Linked DNA regions of Homo sapiens: region 2 is linked to region 1. Evidence: fine-mapped expression QTL. A gene starts in region 1. The other region holds a variant in brackets. All regions are shown on one strand. Distances are between the middles of the regions. Region 1 holds the start of AASDH (aminoadipate-semialdehyde dehydrogenase). Region 2 overlaps PPAT (phosphoribosyl pyrophosphate amidotransferase).

What was found. PIP is the estimated chance that this variant, and not a neighbour inherited with it, causes the effect.
Region 2: its variant is the best candidate, but not a certain one, in a credible set for the expression of AASDH in visceral fat (GTEx, PIP 0.50).

The regions. Positions count from the first base shown.
Region 1 is chr4:56,381,995-56,393,397 of GRCh38, reverse strand. AASDH (aminoadipate-semialdehyde dehydrogenase) reads left to right here and starts at 5,907. Exons shown (of 15, transcript NM_181806.4): 1 at 5,907-6,036; 2 at 9,057-9,328; 3 at 10,801-10,921. The coding sequence starts at 9,099. It overlaps PPAT (phosphoribosyl pyrophosphate amidotransferase), which reads left to right. Exons shown (of 11, transcript NM_002703.5): 11 at 1-36. RefSeq lists enhancers at 5,563-5,612, 5,475-5,981, 5,643-6,012, 5,982-6,489.
Region 2 is chr4:56,420,304-56,431,706 of GRCh38, reverse strand. All of the region lies in intron 1 of PPAT (phosphoribosyl pyrophosphate amidotransferase), which reads left to right. It also overlaps a transcript of PAICS not described here. Among named protein-coding and RNA genes, the nearest start is that of PPAT, 9.6 kb to the left of the region's middle. RefSeq lists an enhancer at 5,619-6,304. The variant A/C (reference allele first, on the strand shown) is at 4,796.

The DNA.
Region 1 (11,403 bases):
CCTTGTTGATAAATATGTGTAATAAGTATGTTTAAATATGTGTGTCCTTTTTTTTTTTTTTTTAAATAGTGACTTTAGTTAGTGCTTTATGGTAAACAGCATGGAGACAACTTCCAGGCTCCATTCTTGGCACCAGCTAGTCATATCTTATTTCTCTGATCCAGGCATTTCAATAAATAGGCCATCTCTTATGAACCAGGCAAAACTGCTGGTTGACTATGAGGGACAAATTAAGTAATTAGAAAAGCAGTACTAAGTAAGCACTACATCGTGGCAAGTTCCTAGGAAGCACTATGGGGAAAGAGGGAGTGTCATGGAAGAGCAGGATTAGATTCAAAGTGTCAGGGTGGGTAGGTAAATGAATAGATAAACTGTAGTACATTCAGACAATAGAATATTATTCAGTGCTTAAAAGAAATGAGCAATCAAGCCATTAAATGACAGAAGGAACATAAATGCATATTAACTAAGTGAAAGGCACCACTCTGAAAATACCACTCTGAAAATATTGAAGGTATCCAAAGAAAAAGTCTCCCATGTTAAGGATAAACTGGTCACAGACAAGAAAGATTACTAGTAGGGCACCTGCCAGTGTTAAGAAAATTTCTGTGCAACTAGGTAAACCTTGGTCGCTGGACTGGATCTTTAATTCTTCTAGGTTCCTCCAATCCAACTTTCTTCCATAGAATTACTAAAAACGAGACTTGCTATGTTCTTAAAGCCCAAGCTCAAACTTAACTGAATTTTAAGGGAGAAATCTCATGCCCAAAGGTTCACAAAACTGCCCAATGCTATAACCAGAGACATTAAAACTGTAAACCAGAATGAAAAGCTAACATCTCCATACTGTGGGCAGCTTTTCCCAAGATGATGGAACATAACTCCCCATCCTAATGACACTCTTGCCCCTCTTAATTCTTCCTTGTTTATGCCTACCTCTTTGATTTGGCAGGATAATTTCACAATCGGTAGATATTGTGGGTGACTTGACAGAATCTGACTTCATAAATCCTTTAGTCCACCCAGGGGGTAATACTGGCAACATCCTCAGTAAACTTTTTGTTCAAATTGTACTAATGGTCTTTTTTAAAACAGAGTTAGCTCTCTCTGCTTTAATTCAAGCCAGTCATGGAATGCTAAGTAATAGGATTGCTGTGTACCAGCTAAACAAAGAGATGTCTGTGCTTTTGCTCATACTACATGCTGTACCTGGATACATTCCTTTGGGGAATTTATATACACAAAATAAGAAAATAGCCCACATGGTATAATAAGTCTCACCTAATTCTTCATGATCATTTGATTTATTCAACTGGTTGTCTTTAAGCCTAGGTTCACGGCTGAAAACTATTATGCTGAGATTGTTACTTTGTATTTTCTTTTTTTTTTTTTTAAGAACTTTATACCTGTTTCTTGTCAAATTTGCATAGAAATGCAACTCCTAAGAGAATAATGCTCTCCCAGCACTTTGAGATGATAGACAGTGCCTATGGAACAGACAGAATTGAACTTAACAGTGGACTCCAGGTAGACTTAGCCTGAGATCCACTCCCTCCAAACCTCTTTTGTTGTTCAAATGTGGCTAAAGGGTTTTGATGCTAATTCCTAGTTACCAGTGACTCCCTTCAACATGAGGGCAGACTGGCACCAAGAGATATCAAAACCTAAATACAGGATGATTGATCAGTGATGCTTTTGAGAAAGACCTTGATCAAAAGGGGAAATGTGAAAGTTGTCAGATTCAAAATGGAGTCACTCGTATTAAAACCCTGGCAAACGGAGCCAGGAAACGCCATGAAGGGGAAGGGTTCTCATGTACATATGGTTGATAACAAGAACTATCAAAAGACTACAAAAATTTACAACCTGCACAAAGGCCACCACAACCTTAAACACAACACACACACACACACACATACTTCTGCAACGACATCTGCCTAGCAACTGCCTATCTAACTTATGGACTGACACCACCCTTACCACGCTTGTTATTGTTAAAACAAACAGTGAGGTTTATTTTTATTTATTTATTTATTTTTTGAGATGGAGTCTCACTTCGTCACCAGGCTGGAGTGCAGTGGCGCAATCTCGGTTCACTGCAACCTCCACCTCCTGGGTTCAAGTGATTCTCCTGCCTCAGCCTCCAGAGTAGCTGGGACTACAGGCGTGTGTCACCATGCCAAATTAATTTTTATATTTTTCAAAGAGACGGTTTCACTGTATTGGCCAGGATGGTCTTGATTTCTTGACCTCGTGATCCACCTGCCTCGGCCTCCCAAAGTGCTGGGATTACAGGTGTGAGCCACCACCACTCCTGGCCTTCCAGTGTACTTCCATAGTTACATATTCTTTCCTCGTGCCCTGTGAAGAGGTGCCTTCCACCATGATTTTAAGTTTCCTGAGGGCTCCCCAGCCATGTGGAACCGAGTCAATTAAACCTCTTTTCTTTATAAATTACCCAGTCTCAGATATTTACTTAAAGCAATGTGAGAACAGACTAATACACCTGTCAAAACACCAAGCCTGAAAAACTCAACCACTAATTTGCTCTCTGCCTTCTCCTGAGCAGCTGAACACTTAGAGTAACTCACACAATGCCTTATTATCCCAACTGTGATATGTGGTACAACAGCACATAACAGGAGGACCTAACCTTGTTTCAGGTAGGGTCAAGGATTTTCCAAATTATTTTTGAACTTTTTAAGGAAACAATGACATTGACAACTGAGAGATAAGCCTTAAAATAAGTAGAGTGTGCCAGTCAAGGTACAAAATATCAGCAGGGTACAGGGTGGGCATTTGATATTTCCCTGCAACTGGAACAGTGTAAGTGGATGGAGCTGAGTAAAAAAAAAAATAGTTTGGGAAACAAGCGCCTAAGACATGAATCCCTGCTATAAGGGTGCTATTTAGTATAGGAGGTCAGATTTGGAAATAATGCAGCAACAGTAACAACTGATGCTGTAAGAAATATATGTCGCTGTCTGGGAAGGGTCTGGTATTGAAACCTATTTTAAAGTTAGTAAGATAGCCTGTTAACTGTTTTATGGCAGTAAACTTGGATTCCTGGGTGACAAAGAACTTTGTAATTTATGGCAAAAGCAGAAGCCAGAACTTCATGTTTATGCATTTTCCATGTCCCCCAAGTCCCACCAGGATGGTGAAGATGGGCTTCCATGGATGTCTGCACATGCAGTCAGTGGGTTACATTATAGGAGAGGAATACTGAGTTTGGGGGATTCCATACTTTTGTAGTTAAGTGGAAGCAAGCCTACTCTTTGGGAAGAATACTTCAGCTATGAAACTGATCATCCCAAACAACCCTGAAAAATGATCTAGGTAAAGAGCAGTTAGGACCTTACATTCTTGGCAAACCCAGAATTTGCAGGTCCCATGACAAATGACCCCTCCCAAGAGTATGATGGGTTCGTGGGATGGAGTTTGGAGGAGTCTGGATAAATTATTCTTTAGGGCTTGAAGAAAGGCATCACTGAGGAAGTCATGTTTAAGCTGTATTTTCATCAAGCAGGCATGGAGAAAGAAGGGTATTTCAGCCTGAGCCCAGCCAAAACAGGTGTGGAAACATGATAAGGACTTTGTATTCTCAGAACTCTTACTAGCCTTTCATTATGACTAGAGTTTACAGTATCAGGTGTGGGGAATGTGGAAGATGGGTGGGGGAGCAGTGGCCTGCTGTGAGATATCAGGTTGGAAAGAAAATGAACTCTCTTGTTTACCTTGCTGAAGAGTCTGAATGTTATGCAGGCAACGAGGGATCATTGAAGCTTCTTATTCTCATAGAAGAATGCTATGACTGATCTGGTATATGTTTTAGAATGATCACCTTGGATTATCAGGTAAAAATGCTGTCTTAAACATAGTGTTCTACATTTGCTCCCTAAGACTCCCTGAAAATGACAGTAACAGGATTTTTAAAGTCATACACCCTTAAGGATTAAAGAAAAGGAATAATGGAAATGAAATTCTGGAATCAATAGCAAAGGGCTCAGTTGACTTGAAAAACCTGAATTCTAAACCCCCAGTGAGCAAAACCAACAAGCAATTCTATTTGTATCACAGAACCCCCTAAAAAACTAAGAAACTGGCTTCAGGAAGTAGAAGTGAAGAGGGTACCTAAAAGGACTGGAAGTTCATTTAGGAGAGTGTTATATCCTTTATGCCACCCCCGGCCCCCGCCTTATTCTGAAGCCTTTTTTTATTGCTCAGGAGTAAAACGGGGTCTCTGTAATGGAGGACATCAGGCACCTAAAACAAAGAGAATTAAGTGAAAATTGTACTAAATTCTGAGACATACCGCAGCCTCCATACCCCTCCTCTCCCACTTGATTTTCAACAAACGTCCCATGGGCTCAACAGCTTCCAATCAACTTTTAAATATACCCCCACTTACATATGAGCAGATAAGGACCACCAGACATCCTAGGAAAGCCTCTAATGTGAAAGATAGAGCACAAAATCAACAGAAGAAAAAAAAAGGAAACTTGAGGGAAATAGATACTGCAAGGGAAGAAAAACTTTAAAAAAGGTATCATTAATATCAGAGAGTTGGATGATGATACTGGAATAATAAAACATCATTTTGGCAGCAATTCAGAGTCAATCAGAGGCAAACAAAACTGAAAACGTTTTAGGAAAAAGCTGACCAAGAAGACCTGAACTAAAGTAGCAGTAATGGCGATGAACATGACACTTAAAAAACGCAGGTTCTAGGCCCCTCACTAGAAAACTAGGGGATGAACCTCCGGGGATGGAGTCCAGGAATTTGGAATCTTCTAAAACATCACCACCGGCAATTCTGATGTAGCCAGCTGGGTGCTGGTCTCAAGACTGAGAACTAGAGGACATAGGGTCTAATCGGATGTAAGAGGTTAAGAAAGTGGGAAGGTTGATAACTGTCTGGCTGGGTGGATGATGGTGTCATCCCAACGTAGAAACATAGAAACATAGACAAGATACACTTTTGCCCACTTCCAACCTAAATACATAAATAAGGCTGTGTTAGTTTGAGTAGTCCATGGTACATCTTGGAAAAGTATAGTTGGCATGTGGAGATATTTTTTGCTTAGATTAGAAGCACAGTTTCTTGTCACCAACAACTACGGCTGCGAGAGCGTCCTATGCTTTTTTCTCACGTACTGTTTTGATGCAGAGCTGTCTTCGCAGTCCCTCCCCCGGCTAAAACCCCCCAAACAAAAAAATCCCGATTATTCTGCCACCAGACAGTAGCTTTAAAACACCTCTGTTATTGCCCTTGACGCTTATTGTAATAATTGACATGTCTCCAACTGTAACAATTCCCTTGGAAACAGAAAGTTCTATTCAGGCATATAGTTTACAAAACTCCACCTCGGACCTGCTTTAATTTCTTTACAGGTCCTACTAAATGCTCCTGTCAAATTCCTTAGTTATCGTTTCAATCTGCTTCCCAATTAAAATGTCAGCATCATGATGACAGGAACGTCGTTTGCAGGCGTCACTGCTGCAGCCATATCTCCAGCACGTTTCCAGAAAATGTCATTGGTTGAAAGCAATAACTCTCCTATTTCACAATGATTTCATCTCTCTTCACATCAACCCTAGGTGATGTTTTTATTCTCACCTTATGAACGAGAATACTGCGGCTCAAAATTCAAGAGTCTTGCCCAGAGTTTTTTGGCAAGTACGAAAGGGTTATGGCTCCAAACTGGTTAGCTCCGAAGTCCTTGCAAACCCTGTCCGAGACCATGCGCGACCCCAAGGAGCGCCTGAGCAGATAACCAAAAGTGAAAAAGCCTATAGACCTCTTCACTCAAGTTAGCGCCTCGGCTTCAGGAGAGGCAGCGCCAGCTCCACGCAGCCGGCCCGGGGTCGCTCGCACTGACGTCACGTAGCGACGCGGAAGATTTACGTATGGTGCCTCGCTCTGGGATAGCTTTACGGCTTCTGGGAGCTGCTGCTTCGCTGTGAGAAGTATCCGCGACGAGCTATCCGGGAAAGGGCCGAATGCGATCAAACCTAATCCGCGAGACTTGCTAAGTGAGTCGCGGCAGGGCGCGGTGTCCGGCGGGGGTCTGTGTGAAGGAGGCGAAGTGCCGCTAGGCCTGAGCCTGCTTCCACATACATTTGCTCAGCTTCAGGACCACTGCCTGACCTCGGATTTGATACATCGGGGTCTGGCGTGCTGGTGTGGTGCAGACTAACCCTGACCTGTGTGTACACTCCTGCGTCACTAGCCTCCGCCCCTCCATTCAAATGGAAATAAGTGTGCTCCGCGCTCAGCTACCCCCTAGAGTGGTTTCGAAGAGCAATGAAGAAATGTTTAGGAAGCTGTAAATTGCATTGTTACTCGTTGCATACCGTAAATTTAGAAGCCGGGGAATTGGGAAAATAAAGTTTCTAGATTATTTATCCATTTTTAAAACAGCCAGTGGCCTAGAGAGAGGCCCCATAGCAATTGAATTTGCTGACACTCTTAAGATCTTTGTTGACTAAATAGCAGCTTCTACAGTTGTAGCAAGTAAATTTATTCCTTTTACATGTAAAATCTGCTTACCAGAGTTTGCTTTTTTTTTTCCTTTTTTTTTTTTTTTTTTTTTTTGAGACGGAGTCTCGCTCTGTCGCCCAGGCCGGACTGCGGACTGCAGTGGCGCAATCTCGGCTCACTGCAAGCTCCGCTTCCCGGGTTGACGCCATTCTCCTGCCTCAGCCTCCCGAGTAGCTGGGACTACAGGCGCCCGCCACCGCGCCCGGCTAATTTTTTGTATTTTTAGTAGAGACGGGGTTTCACCTTGTTAGCCAGGATGGTCTCGATCTCCTGACCTCATGATCCACCCGCCTCGGCCTCCCAAAGTGCTGGGATTACAGGCGTGAGCCACCGCGCCCGGCCTTTTTTTCCTTTTTAAGGTCTCAAACATTTGGGCATTAATAAGTTTAGTATTCTCTACTGCAGAGAATGTTATTTGTGATTCAATGAATGAAAATGAAAACCTGAGACAAGAAGAATGGATTTTACCTTAAATGTCTGTAGCAACCATTGGGAAAATGGAAAGAAACATCTTAATTATCGTATAGATGTGTAGGTACCCTTCTGCGCTACCTGTATGTTGCGAAATGAACTCATTCCTCATAATTTAAGCGCCTGCTGCAGAAAGCCTCCCTTATATTTACATAATGATCATTGTATGTCTGAGGAAAGCTTAAAATTGTATCTTGTGCATTAAAAAGAGCTAATATTTATAGAAATGCCTACTAAAAATAAATAATGTAAGTACTAAAGTTGCCTTATATGTTTAAACTGTATATTTAGAAATCACAGCATTTTCAAACTTATGGGTCTTGGCAGTTATTGGTTCATTTTACTCTCTTTAGGATTTCTTTTTCCTAATTGATGTTAATTAGTTGATATAAATGAAAATTTTGAGTCAGGAAATCAATTCAAATAGGTGTGAATAAATTAAAAAAAAAAAAAGAAAGAAAAGAAAACTTGACTCGGCCGGGCGCGGTGGCTCCGCCTGTAATCCTAACATTTTGGGAGGCCAAGGTAGGTGGATCACTTAGGTCAGGAGTTCAAAACCAACCTGGCCAACATGGAGAAACCCTGTGTCTACTTAAAAAAAAATAACAAAAACAAAAATTAGTTGGACATGGTAGCGCGCACTTGTAATCCCAGCTACTCGGGAGCTTGAGGTGGGAGAATCGCTTGAATCTGGGAGGCAGAGGTTGCAGTGAGCCGAGATCACGCCATTGCATTCCAGCCTGGGGAACAGAGCGAGACTGTCACAAAAACAAACAAAAACTTTACTGAAGCAGGCTACTTGGTAAGTCTTAATTGCTTTAAAATATGGAAAACAGAGTTCAGAGAGGGAAAAAAATAACTTTCACCTTTAAGGAAACACTGTGAATTTTTTTTACCGTTGATCCCGAGTGTTTCTTTCTTGAAATACTGTTTCGAATCTTTTAATATAATCTGCATTAAGAAACCCAGAGAACATTGCATTGATATACTGCTTTATTGAGTTGTAATATTATATTTTCAGTCTAAGTGAACTTATTGGCAATTTAAAAATAAACTATACAGTATGAAGAGTTTACTTCTTGACAATTATACAAGTATGACTTCTGTAAAATATTAATAGTATAGTAATAAACACTGTTTTTATATATAGTTGTCTAGAACTGAATGAATAGGAATAGGGTTTTTTGCTTTCTTCTGTCAAAGATTGATTTTGCTTTCATCTGAGTTTAGCTCCTACTGGAATTTAAAAGCAAAGTTTATTTACATTAGTCATTTTATTTTATCTTTATTTCATTTACTTATTTATTTTGAGATGGGGTCTTGCCCTGTCACCCAGGCTGGAGTGCAGTGGTGCCGTCTTGGCTCACTGCAACCTCTGCCTCCTGGGTTCAAGTGATTCGCCTGCCTCACCCTCCAGAGTAGCTGGGATTACAGGTGTATGCCACCTTGCCCGGCTAATTTTTGTATTTTTAGTAGAGACAGGGTTTCACCATGTTGGCCAGGCTGATCTTGAACTCCTGACCTCAAGTGATCCACCCACCTCGGCCTCCCGAAGTGCTGGGATTACAGGTGTGAGCCACCGCACCCGGCCACATTAGTAATTTTAAAGTCACCATACAAGATTTTGACTACTCTATCTTAACAAATCTGTAACAGTTACTGAAGGAAAGTAAAAAAAAATTAAGTGTGGGGTCCTTTAAATTTGATTTTATTGATTAATTTTTTATATATTTCATATTTACATTGTGGTCCGTTGAGAGAGAAGTCTCCATTTTTACCTGCTTCATTTTCATCTGTGTATACCACTGCCCTCCCAAATTTTTTTGATGCTCTGACCCAGCATAGGTTGATGTATCAAGTTAATTTTCAACCTCATTGTCCTCAGTAAAGTTACCATAATTTCATAAGTTCAGAGATTCTTCATTTATATATCTTTGATATAATTATTTTTGTGAGATATTATTGTAGAGAAGTTTTTCCCTGTCCCTCCACCGAGCTCTCTAAAACTCCCTCTCCCCCTAACACTTCTGTATATACACAGGGTTCTGTGCTACAAATTGATGTTTAGATAAACTTCAGTGAAATGACTCTTCAGGAATTGGTGCATAAGGCTGCCTCCTGTTATATGGACAGAGTAGCTGTATGTTTTGATGAATGCAACAACCAGCTTCCAGTTTACTACACCTACAAGACTGTGGTTAATGCTGCTTCTGAATTATCAAATTTTCTGCTGTTACACTGTGACTTTCAAGGAATTCGGGAAATTGGTCTCTACTGCCAACCTGGGATAGACTTACCCTCTTGGATTTTAGGGTAATATTTTTTAGAACTGTAAATTTGATGTTACTCCAAGCTAATGTAAATTTTTAATAGAGTATATTGCAAGTTATTGTTCTGTTTACTATTGGACTTTTCTATATTGTTTGGTCAATTGTAGAGAGACTAAAGAAGTTTGCATTTCCCCAGTATTATTTTTATATTATTTAAATTAATTATTCTGAGCTTATTTAGGAAAGACTAGAAGCTTTCACTAATAGAACGTATAAGTATCTCCAAAATGTAAGGGCTTCATTAATCTGTTAAAGGAAAACAATTATAACAATTTATAACACTTTGTTGTTAGATAAAAGAAAACAGGATTTCACAGATAACATGACTATGTTTTTTGTCCGCAACTGAAATTTGAGGCACTAAGGTATTCAATAAATCAGTAAATTAGAGTTTTGGATAATAGTTGATATAGATTGAAATATGAACCCATTAGAAGACACTATTCCAACAAATATTTGCAAAATGTTCAATCATTTAAATTGTTCTAGAATGTTATCCTCATATAGTGATTTCTATTCTAGAACTCTGCAGTAAGTATAAACTGCCAAAGAAATAGTTTATTCATTCTATAATATGTGTCTTAGTAAATTAATTATATAAATATAAAGCAAAAGATGTTCAAAAATTTACTTTTGGCCAGGCACAGTGGCTCACACCTGTAAATCCCAGCACTTTGAGAGGCTGAGGCTGGAGTATTATTTAAGGCCAGGAGTTCGAGACCACCCTGGTGACTTCACAAGACCCCATCTCTATAAAACAAATAAAAACAACAACAAAAATTTACTTTCACTCAATTATTGACGAAATTTATTGAGAATTTACTATGTGCAAAGATCTAGTGTCCTTAAAGTATACCTGAAACTACTTAAAATGCTTAACTTTAAAAAAATCTTGTATTTCTCTATATTAAGTGATAAGAATTTAACATAGTAAATACTCAGGATTTTCATTAAGAAAAGATAAAATGACAGTGTTTATGTATTTATTTATTTTTGAGATGAAGTTTCACTCTTATTGCCCAGGCTGGAGTGCAACGGCGTGATCTCGGCTCACCGCAACCTCCGCCTCCCGGGTTCAAGCAATTCTCCTGCTTCAACCTCCCAAGTAGCTGGGATTGCAGACGCCCGGCTGATTTTGTATTTTTAGTAGAGACAGGGTTTCTCCATGTTGGTCAGGCTGGTCTCCAACTCCCGACCTCAGGTGATTCGCTCGCCTCAACCTCCCAAAGTGCTGGGATTACAGGCGTGAGCCACCGTGCCCGGCTAAAATGACAGCGTTTATTACCAACTATGTGTCAGTGAAAACATTGGAAATTTCTGATCAGCAATAAAGTGCTCCGGAAACCATTTTTATGCTGCTACAAAAAATAAATAAAGTGCATAGAGAAATAGAAATGCTTAAACAAATACTAAATCAACAGACATTCTATGCTGACTGTGTACTTTTTTCTTTAGAATTCTCCAAGTCCCGGCTGCTTATGTACCTATCGAGCCAGATTCACCACCGTCATTATCAACTCATTTTATGAAAAAATGTAATCTAAAGTATATCCTTGTTGAAAAAAAACAAATTAATGTAAGTCTGGATGTTTCAATTGTTTTTTGCCTGTATTACATTTATTTCAATTGAAACATTCCTTCCTTCTCCCATCTGGATTCCTAAGTCTGCTAAATGTGGCAAGGTTTCTCAGTCTTTGCACTATGACATTTTTAGGGTTGAGTAATTGTTGTGAGGAGTGTTCCGTATATTATAGGATATTTAGCAATATATTTGACCTCCACTCGCTAGACCTCAGTAGCACCTCCCAGTCATAACAACCAAAAATCTCCAGACATTGCCAATTGTCCCCCAGAGGGGCTCTCCACCCCTCACACTCCATTGTGAGCCACTATTCTGTAGTATGAACAGATCTGTTAGCCTTATAATAATATATTATGCATTGTTTTGAATTTCTCTTTCCAAAGTATTTCCTATACTGCAAAATTTTATAATACTTGGAACTTTCATATTTATGGCAATTACATTGGTCAGCAACACTGAAGAATTATAACTAAGCT
Region 2 (11,403 bases), 38 kb before region 1:
AATGTCTGTAGATTTATGCCATGAATCAGCTAATTAGCCTTTCCTTGATTAGGAGATAACCATGCCCTTCCATTCAATGAATTATCACTTCTCCTGGTTAGGAATTGAACCTTACAATGACAAACATTTTCATACTTCTAAAAATTTATAAGATTTACCTGATGAAGTTGGGTTTTCTGTCTGCAGAAACATTCTGTAGAATCTTTTGGTTCTGTTATTACGCTTTGAGGAAACTGATTTGTAATGATCTCAGGAGCACTTTTCTTAAGAGATTTAGACACTGGTTCTGCAAACAGAGTACAGAACATTACCACTGGAAAGGCACTTGTGAGAATGAGAGATGCACTCAGTCAGACTTATATGGATCTAGTTCCCAGTTAATCTTCATTTAGTTTTGTGGAGAACACAGGATTTGATTGTCAGAGAACTTACTTTGGGCTGCCAAATTAAGGCAGGGAATATCTTACTTAATTTTGATTTTCATATTTGACTGAAAATGATCAAATATGTAACATTCCTATAGTGTTTAACTTTTATACTCCCATAATCTATAACCTTTATCTGAGTCAAGTAAATTTTGGTTTGAGGGAGTGACTTATTTTAAGTGTCCTTGCAAATTGTTCCAGTCTTTGATTTTAGTTATTTTATAATTCAGTGATTCTTGCTTTAAAATAAGTGTTTTCAATCCTTCCATTTATAACTTTTTTTTTTAGAACTTAGCTTTTTGCATTAGTCTGAAGCAGAATTTACCTGCCCCCAAAAGTCTCCAAGTACCACTGCTTGGTCATTCTGGTCAATATTGGGAAGAGCTCCTTAACATACAAACTGAAATCTAGCCCCAGGTTTTCCAGTAACATCAGTTTAATCTTGGGCAAGTCTTCTAACTTCTGAGTCTGTTTCCTCATCTGTTGGCCTAGACTTATATATTGTAAGGTCTAATGTTCAAATTCAGTGGGTTCAGAATGATACTCTTGTGCGGTTAACCCTTAGCAGTTTAACCTGAAAGGAGAAACTGCTAAGGGTTAACCGCACAAGAGTTTTATCTGACTTGCATTTATATCCAGACATAGAAAAATACACTTTTCAGTTCACTTGAGATAAAAGGTTATAAGGGGAAAAGGAATTCTTGCTATTTGCTAATACTTTATTCAAAATGTATTTGTTGAGCAGAAGCTCAACAAATAGGAATAATGTACATCTAAGTATATTACTAAGGCACTGTGGTAGACACTGGGAATACTTTACCATACAGGGCAGATGTGGTCCCTGCCCTCGCAGAGACCTTATTGGTTCAGGAGCGTAGACTTCTCTATGCCTCAGTTTCCTCATCTGTACATTGGGTATAATAATAGCACCTACCTTATAGGATTGTGATTGGGACTAAATATGTTAATATATGTAAAGTGCTTAGAACAGTGCTTGGATATATGCATGCCCTATGACCCTGCCTTCCACTTCTGGGTATGTATTCAACAGAAATGCATACATATGTCCATTGAGAGACATGCAATTTTTCAAAAAAGCCCCAATCTGGAAACAGCTGAAATGTCCAACAGTGAAATAGATTTTAAAAAGTAATGGGATATACGTTTATTTATTAAGTAAATATTGAGATGGGGGGTTTCACTATGTTGCCCAGACTGGTCTTGAACTCCTGAGTTCAAGTGATCCTCCTGCCTTGGCCTCCAAGGCAGTGCTGGAATTATAGACCTGAGCCACTGCACCTGGCTGGGATGTATATTTTTACAATGGACTATTCTACAGTAATAAAAAATAACAGACTACTGTTGTGAGTAAAGTCATGGGTGAATCTCATAAACAATGTTGAATGAAAGAAAAGTACATATAGTATGAATCCCAAACTAATCTATGGTGATAGAAGTGAGAATAGTGATAATGTTTATGGGGGCGGAAGGATGATTAATGACTGGGAGGCTTTTAGGGTGCTAGTAAGTTTTATGTCCTGAATGGTGGATTTGGTGTGTCTACTTTGTAAAATTTTGTTTTACTCTTCAATTTTTTGTGTTAACTAAAAAACAATCTCATAAATTATAAATCTATAAGGCATTAAAGCTGGATTATTTTAGAGATCCAGAGAGATGCAGTGATTTGCTCTGTGTTTAGGAATTAGGGTCAAAGAGAGACTGGAGCTCAGGTTTTCTTATTAGTCTTATGTGCATTTTCTTTCTTCTACATGCTATATTGCATTATATTATCTTTTCTGATGTCTGTGATGGGTCATTTTGGAATTACAGCTCCCATTATTAGGTTGGCTTCTGAGTTTGACTTTCAGACTTATTAAAATGTTATATTGATTATTGACTACCTTTGAAGAACTGTGGATTTTTTTCTTTTTACATCTGATAACAATAATTGCAACAATCACTGTAAAGTACAATTTAAAGGACCATGATAACCAAACAGTTACCTAACTCCGGGCAAGTTTTCATTTACTTTCAGTGTTACTCTCACTCTTTTTTCTTTCTTCTTCTTTTAAAATATAAACTCTAGCTCCTGCAGGAACTTTCACTCAGTGAGCTATGAAATAAATTATTTCTCAGCATTCTCTGCTCTAATACAGTTCATAAACAATATATTTAGTCTAATTTATCAAGGACAGGAATAAATATCTCTGTTATCAGGAAAAAGCAACAAGTTGTTTCCACTGTGTGGAAGAACTTGTTATTTCTCTGGCTCTTACCATCTTCATGTGCTTTTCTCTTGAAGCTCAAAGTTCCTTGGCTTTTGTTGTGACCTTCAAATAATTCTTAAATAAAAACACAGGAAAAGAATCATTATGTGACATCATTTGAAACACATTAATGGTTTTCAAGCATTCAGGTATACTAAAATAAGAAAACTTAAGCAGATGGACAAATAAAGAATGAGTTAAGAATTAGGAATATTTTGGTACAAGGTTTAGAAAAAAGTTGAAACTCTTGGCTTAAATTAGGTACCTATTTTTAATGATTTTTAAGGGTCATTTGAGCATACAATAGTGTAAGGATTTCATTTTTAAAGAGTTTTTCTCTTGCTAAATGAAAATGCAAAGAGGAATGTCTAGAATTTTTTTTGTTAATGTCAATTCCAAAGTTACCATGTCTCCATTTGGCAGTTCTGAGAGTTGGTTTTCTTAGGATGCAGTCAACTTCTTCATAAAATCTCATTTTTCTTGGAGGGTTGCCATTTTTTCTTTGTAAAATGCTATATTCATATTTTACATTTTTATATTTCGTATGACATTGTTTCCGGTCTCTGTCTATCCCAAACTGCATTAATTAATCTTCTGGCAATTTCCTCAAATATTTTCTTGTTTCTTGTGGCCCCTTCAAGCATTCGCTTAATTTTTTCATCAGACCATATCAATGCTCTGACCTCACTGTCACACCAGTATTTTCCGGCCTCTGTGTTACTCACTGTTATAATCTGTAAATGACTTTTAGCATCTTCTAAAGGATTACCTACAAATCAACATGATTTATAATTATTCAAACATAGATAAATCTTGTATTTGATTATCATTCACTTAAAGCAACTGTGATGGCATAAAGTACCAAGAATACAATAATAACTTCAATATGAGTCAAAAGAAATTTTGTGTCCATATTCAAACAGTATATTCTAAAAATTATAAGACAGACTGTTCTCATTATTAGTGAGAAAATTTAGCTGCTTTTCATCATAGGTGATCTTCACTGGATATTTGTGAATATGGAAAGTCCCAGTGTTTACTAAATTTCTTTTAGTGAGAAGTGGGCATAGACATTTTCCTTCTTTCTCTACTGTATTCTCTACCAACTCAGGTATAAGGAAGCATTTTAGGTAATACACAATAGAGATCTTCTCTGTTAGACTTCATATATCAAAATGACATTTAAAATTTACCAATTTAGACCCTGCAGTGGACCCAGTATTATTTTGGGGTGATGATGTGCAGCAGGGGGTGACAGGGGGAAGGCATACTCCACAATGCTTTCTAACAGTGAGTTCCTCTCATCTTAAATTCTCCTAGGTTTTAATTCTGAATAATTTTTCAGCCTTATGAATTTTTTTTTTTTTTTTTTAAGAGACAGGGTCTCACTATGTTGCCGAGGCTGGCGTGGACCTCCTGAGCTCAAGCGATCCTCCTGCCTCAGCCTCCCAAGTAGCTGGCACTACAGGTGCCTACCACCATGCCTAGTGCCTCATGGAAATTTGAAAATGTGTTTAAATCACTCTTGTTGGATATAATTTTTAAAAGATGGTGATAGAAATGTAAAATGGTGAAGTCATGGTGGAAAACAGGTAGTTCCTCAGAAACTTTCAGCATATGCCATATGACCAAGCAATTCCACTCCTACATATAAACCCAGAAGAACTGAAAACATGTTCACATAAAAACATATACATGCTGTGGAAAAACAGTACTGCAGGTCCTAAAAAAATTAAACACAAATTACCATATGATCAACAATTTCGCTTCTGGGTATATACCCAAAAGAATTGAAAGCAGGGACTCAAGCAGATATTTATACATCCACATTCATAGCAGAGTTATTGATAATAGCCGAAAGGCAGAAACAACCCAGATAACCATCGATGGATGAATAAACAAAATGGTGTATCCATACAATGGAATATTAAAATGAAGGAAATTCTGATAAATGCTACAACATGGAGGAGCCCTAAAGATATTATAAGTGAAATAAGCCAGGCACAAATGGACGAATATTGTATGATTCCACTTATATGAGGTACCTAGAATAGTCAAATTCACAAAGATGGAAAGGAGAATAGTGGTCACCACAGGCTAAGG[A/C]GAGTTGGGATGGAGGAGTTATTGTTTAATGGCTACAGAAGTTTCAGTTTGGAATGATGAAAAAGCTCTGGAGATGGAGAGTGGTGATGTTTGCACAACAACGTGAACGTACTTATGGGTATAATGGTAAATATTTTATGTATATTTTACCAAAATGGGAAAAAAATTGTACCAGAATGTTCATAGCAACAGTATTCATAGGAGCCAGAAAATGGCAGTGACCCAAATGTCTGTCAGTTGATAAGTGGGAAAACAAAATATGGTATATCTGTAAATTGGAATATTATTCAGCCATAAAAAGGAATGAAATACTGATATATGCTACAACGTGGATGAACCGTGAAACAAAAGAAGCCAGACACAAAAATGTATATTGGAGGGTACCACTCATGTCCAGAATAGGCAAATTCTTAGAAACAGAAAGTTGGTTAGTGGTTGTCAGGGGTTACAGAGGTGTGGTCAAGCAGTTAAACTACTGATGGATATGGGGTTTCTTTCTTTTTTTTTTTTGAGACAGAGTCTTGCTCAGTCGCCCAGGCTGGAGTGCAGTGGTGTGACCACGGCTCACTGCAACCTCCGCCTCCTGGGTTCAAGTGATTCTCCTGCCTCAGCCTCCCGAGTAGCTGAGACCACAGGTGCGCGGCCACCACGCCCAGCTAATTTTTGTATTTTTAGTAGAGATGGGGTTTCACCATGTTGGCCAGGATGGTCTTGATCTCTTGACCTCGTGTTCTGCCTGCCTTGGCCTCCCACAGTGTTGGGATTACAGGCGTTAGCCACCGTGCCTGGCAGATACGGGATTTCTTTGTGGGGTGATCAAAATGTTCTAAAATGGGATACTGGTGATTATTGTATAACTGTGGATATACTAAAAACCACAGTTATACGCTTTAGTTGGGTGAATTTGATTGTATGTAAATCACATCTCAGAAAAGTTGCTGAGGTTTGAGAATAGAAAAGTAAAGACAAGTCAAGTGTAGAGGTTAATGCAGTGATGTCTGTGGGAAGTTATAAAGGAACTAAGGAAACATGAACTGCATTGTACGGAGCTTCCAAATCTTCCTCTAAGCCAGAGTTTTTATGATGTGATTGATTAAGTCATTGGCTGCAAGATGGAACTCAACCTCCAGCCCCACTCTCCTTCATGGAGGTCACACTGGCACAAAGCTCCAACCCTCATCACATGGTCGGTCTTTTTCGGTGACTACCCCCTATCCTGAAGCTATCTGGGAACCCACCTAGAGTAGCCTCATTAACACAACAAAGATGCCTCTGTCTCTGGAAGTTCCAAAGGTTGTTGATGCTTTGTGCCAGGAACAGGAGACCAAAACTAGATATATTCTTTATTATGCCACAGCTTCTTAAAAGTTTATTAAAATATTACCAACAGTACAAATTAGAAAAATCATGACTTCATAATAAACAAGTTGCCTGTATTTAAGATTAGCAGCATACCTATGTCTGAGCTTTCTTTTTTCACATTTGTAAGTCTTCGGTTTTCTGAAGTTTTAGTAATAAGTTCTTCTCTATCTGGATGTACTATTGGATTAAAATGAAAAGTTCTCAGTATTGTGTTTCATATGACTAAAGTGCATTAATTTATGTAATAATTTTACTGCTAAGATTATACAAATTATAATGCATGTAAAATATACAAAAGTGTTTAAATATTCCAGGTTTAAGGAAAATTACTTCCAATTTCTTTCTTTTGGAAGAGATAAATGAATTAGAAGAAAACATAATTCTTAGCGTACCCTTTGAGATGGTAACAGTAGATTCCTTAATGCCCCCTGCTGGCCATCTCATTGTGAACTTTTTGAATTTTGGAAATATGTTTTGCTACAACCAAAAGAAAAATGGGCATTTCTAGGGTTATTCTTAGATGAACATTGAGGTATTTCACTTGTGATTTTTAGGCTGAAGATCAGCGTGACCTCCTCTAATAGGATATATTTTACTACCATGAAACTTCTATGCTTATTTAAGTATGCTTGACTCCACCCCTCTGACCTAAAATAGGTTTAACTGTGACTGTCCTATACCAGAAAGCAGTGGCTTGCGGGAATACATAGATAATAAGGCATACCAGCTCATATAAATGGCAGCTGATATTGGAGCGGAATTAAGTCAATTTTGTTTCTCCTACTCAGAAGAGACAGGTAGGTGATAAGATTGTCAAACACAAATTTTCTCTTTTGGCAGAGTCCTTTCTCCTTTGATAACTTCTTGATTCCTTTTATCCTCTCTCGCTTATGCTTCAGACCAGGGAGAAAAATAAAATATGTTTTAGATCCAAAGATCTAGTTTATTCAATTTTCATGGGCCACTTCTTTTTACTTAACATAATAGGAATAGCCTGAGCAGTCTATGATTCTTCTCCGTGATTGATTTCCTTCATATTCCATTAGTCATTAATTTTTAAGTGATAATCTATCGGCATTAGCAAATTTTTCTTCCCTGAATGGAATCAAATTGAAACTTCTGTGTGAATCAGTCCTCTGCTGGTCTGAGCATGATAACCTAGCTACGGTTTCCAGTGCTGGCTATGCTTGAGAACCGTCTAAAAATACGGGTGCCTGAACTGACTCCAACCTGCTAGATCAAAACCTTCAGAAGTTCCAAATTGGGAACCACTCTAGATACTCAGAATCCAAGGGGTCTACAGCTGTAGCTGGATTTTCATTTGAAGTAAAGAAAAGCTTATGGCTTATAGCATACATTTAAGATAGGAAAGAGAATACTTTTGGGGGACTGGTTTTTTGGCCAGATATCAAAGTTAACAATATGGAGCTATTATTAATAATAGCAACTCCAATTTCAAAAATTCATCAGTGAAATACAAAAAATAAAAATGAAGTGACCTCTGTTTTTACATGTAAATACCCATCACTTTGTTGTTGTTTTAAAGAAAGACTATTTCATGTGAATTTTTTTCCCTGAAGATAAATAATTCATATTTTTATACCTCAATACTACGTTCTATTACATTCTTCCTAAGAGCGGAGTGGCAATTTGTGAATCAGTAGGTATATATTGCAGGTGTACCTAAAATCCTTGCCTGTTTAAGTTTTTTTCTTACGTATTTAGCTGCTGAGATCCTTGTGGGTTTATATCTTTGCTTTGAATTTTCATGTGACAGTTTAAAATAATATAATCTCTAGGATGACTATGCATTTGTCCTGTTTCACATTTTCTAAATATATTCCAAATATTTCATATTTGGCATGCAAACATGCCAAACAAAAAAAAAAACTTGTACTTTTGACTTAATCTTTTTCTTCTACATGTAAAAAATTATCTTGAGGTTGTACTTAAGTAAGTTTTCCAGAGGACTAACAAGCTAAAATCTTCTGAATACTAAAGCTCTTAACTTTTTAGATGGAAATCTTTTTTCCTTATTAAACAATGCAGTAATCTGATTTTCTTATTTTTTAAAATTTTATTTTTTATTTTTAGAGATGGGTTCTTGCTGTGTTGCCCAGGCTGGATTCAAACTCCTGGGCTTAAGTCATGCTTCAATCTTAGCATCCCAAGAAGCTGGGATTATAGGCATGTGCCAACTGCACCTGGCATAATTTGATTTTTAACTCTTAATGACAAAGGCCATAGCTGTGATGCCTATGGAAACCTAAGAATCTGTCCTGTCTGATAAACCAGAGAAATAAGTTTGCCAGGAGTATAGGAAATTTGATTAACTAGTTTGTTAAATTAACATTGAGCTTTACACTTTGTGAAGTTATATGAAGCTTTGGACTGACAGACTAGGTACAAGGTCTTTTTAACAGATATACTTCAGCTTGGGGGCTTGGTGATCTCCTCCTCCCCAGTTTTGGTTTGTGTAGAAGAGGCAAACTATCAGGTAGCAAGCACAAAATCTCACCTCCAAACCCTTAGTGCCCTATACCAGAGGGTAATGATTCTCAAACTTGCTTGCATCATTATAACCTGGAAGACTTGTTAAAACAGATTGCTAGGCCCCAACACCAGAGTTTCTGATTCTGGATGGGGCCCAAGAATTTGCATTTTGAGTAAGTTCTCAGTTAATGCTGATGCTGCTACACTTGGAGAAAAACAGCGATGGGGAACATTGCTTCCATTAATTATTTCCACCTTTCATTTATGTGTTTTGAGTTATGATCCAACAGTACTTCATATAATGTTATAACATAATTTCTTAGGTATGGTAGCGTCTATTAATATATAGATATAAAATCTAAAACCCATTATGAGGGCACCACTCTCATGACCTCATCTAAAGCTAGTTATCATTCAAAGGCCCTGTCTCCAAATACATCACATTGGGGGTTAAGGCTTCAATATATGAATATTGGTGGGAGGAACACAGTTCAGGCCATAGCAGTGTCTTATAATAGCATTTTATGTATATACTTTGTCACACACACACACACACACACACACACACACACACGTACAAAAAAAAAAAACCAGAATATTATTTTATGTGTGTCAAGACCTTGTTTTTTATCTGTATCTCCTATGTCTTCTGACTTATTACTGACTGAATCATCTTCAGCTACATCTCCAGCAATGACTGTATGAACATAAGGGGATATATATTGGCTTTTTAAATTTACTTCAGGATCGTGTTTTATTTATTTAGATTATTTATTTGTTTTTGAGGCAGAGTCTCACTCTGTTGCTCAGGCTGTGGTTCAGTGGTACGATTTTGGCTTACTGCAACCTCTGCCTCCCAGGTTCCAAGGATTCTCATTCCTCAGCCTCCCGAGTAGCTGGGATTACAGGCATGTGCCACCACACCTAGCTAATTTTTTGTGTATTTTTTAGTAGAGATGGGGTTTCACCATGTTGGCCAGGCTGGTCTCAAACTCCTGCCTCAAGTGATCCACCCACCTTGGCTTCCCAAAGTGCTGGGATTAGAGGCATGAGCCACAACGCCTGGCCCAGAATTGTGTTTTAAACTCTAATGCAGTATTTTCCTTTTTAAAGGGACCCTAATATTAAATATGATTAGTTAGATTCCCTACCCTTAAGCATCTTTTTGTCACTATAGATATTGGGTATGTATCTGAGTCTCTAACTAAGTCTTCTGACATAACTAATGGAATCATCTTTAGCTGCATCTCCAGCAATGACTGTATGAAGATATCATGCCACTGCTGTTGGGCTGCTTTATCTGTAGTCATCTAACTGGGGGAGATGTATAGTTCTCTAGCATACCAGTTTCTTTCTTGTCCACCAGCGAAATATTTTGAGATTTCTCACCAACATTTCCAGTCTTAACTGTCTGTGGTTCCCCTCTCTTCCCTAGACGCAGACTGTCTTACAATTGGGACTCATCATTTAAGCCAGATAATAAAATCCGGAGACACTGTGGTTAGTAGAGGTCTTTAAGACCATCTTGTCCACACCCCCCAATTTTGGAGTTAGGTCTACAGCAGCGGTCTCCAACCTTTTGGCACCAGGGACTGGTTTCACGGAAGACAATTTTTCCATGGACCAGGGGGTGAGGGGGCCATGGTTTTGGGAGGATTCAAGTGCATTACATTTATTGTGCACTTTATTTCTGTTATTATTACGTTGTAATATATAATGAAATAATTAAACAACTCACCATAATCTAGAATCAGTGGGAGCCCGGAGCTTGTTTTCCTGCAACTACATGGTCCCATCTGGGAGTGATGGGAGACAATGACAGATCATCAGGCATTAGATTCTCATAAGGAGCACACAACCTAGATCCCTTGCCTGCACAGTTCACAACAGTCTTCGTGCTCCAGTGTTCTAATCTAATGTGAGAATCTAATGTTGCCGTTGATCTGACAGGAGTCGCGGAGCTCAGGTCATAATGTGCATGATGGGGAGTGTCTGTAAATACAGATGAAGCTTGGCTCGCCCACCACTCACCTCCTGCTGTGCAACCCAGTTCGTAACAGGCCACGGACCAGTAAGGGTCCAGGTGTTGGGGACCCCTGGTCTAGAGAAGACACTTGGTTACTTCAAGCTTCCACAGAGCCTTACAACTTTGATTTCCTGAATCCTGGTCTAGAACTCATTCAGTTTATTTCATGCTATCATGTCTTAGTGTGTATGTACTGTATCTCAATCCTTTGGTTTAAATATACTTTAAAGACATTTATGATGGGTCTCAGAGAAATGTACTACTTCTAAGAAAGTCTCATGTATTTTATATTTTTCTAAGTTCTTCAATGCCCTTTTTCTATTTTACTCAATTTTACCACAATTAGTATGAAAATTTACTTTAACTTCTGCCATCTGGGGTTGCATATTTGCTTTATTAAAATTGATCTATTTTAAACTTTATTCTGGGAATCCAGTTTTATTTCCTCCTTTTTGTATAACTGTACTGTTTCTATTCTGGGGAAGATCAAATGTATACTAAATCTGTTTCATAATAAATTCAGCTAGCTTGTCAAATAGCATGTAATGAAACCTATTTAACTTACATATATAATATTCCTCTTATGGTACTGAACATTCTCAATACAGGTTGAGCATCCCTAATATGAAATCTGAAATGCTACAAAATTTGAAACTTTTTGAGCACCAACATGATGCTACATGTGGAAAATTATACACTTGACCTCATGTGATGGGTATAGTCAAAA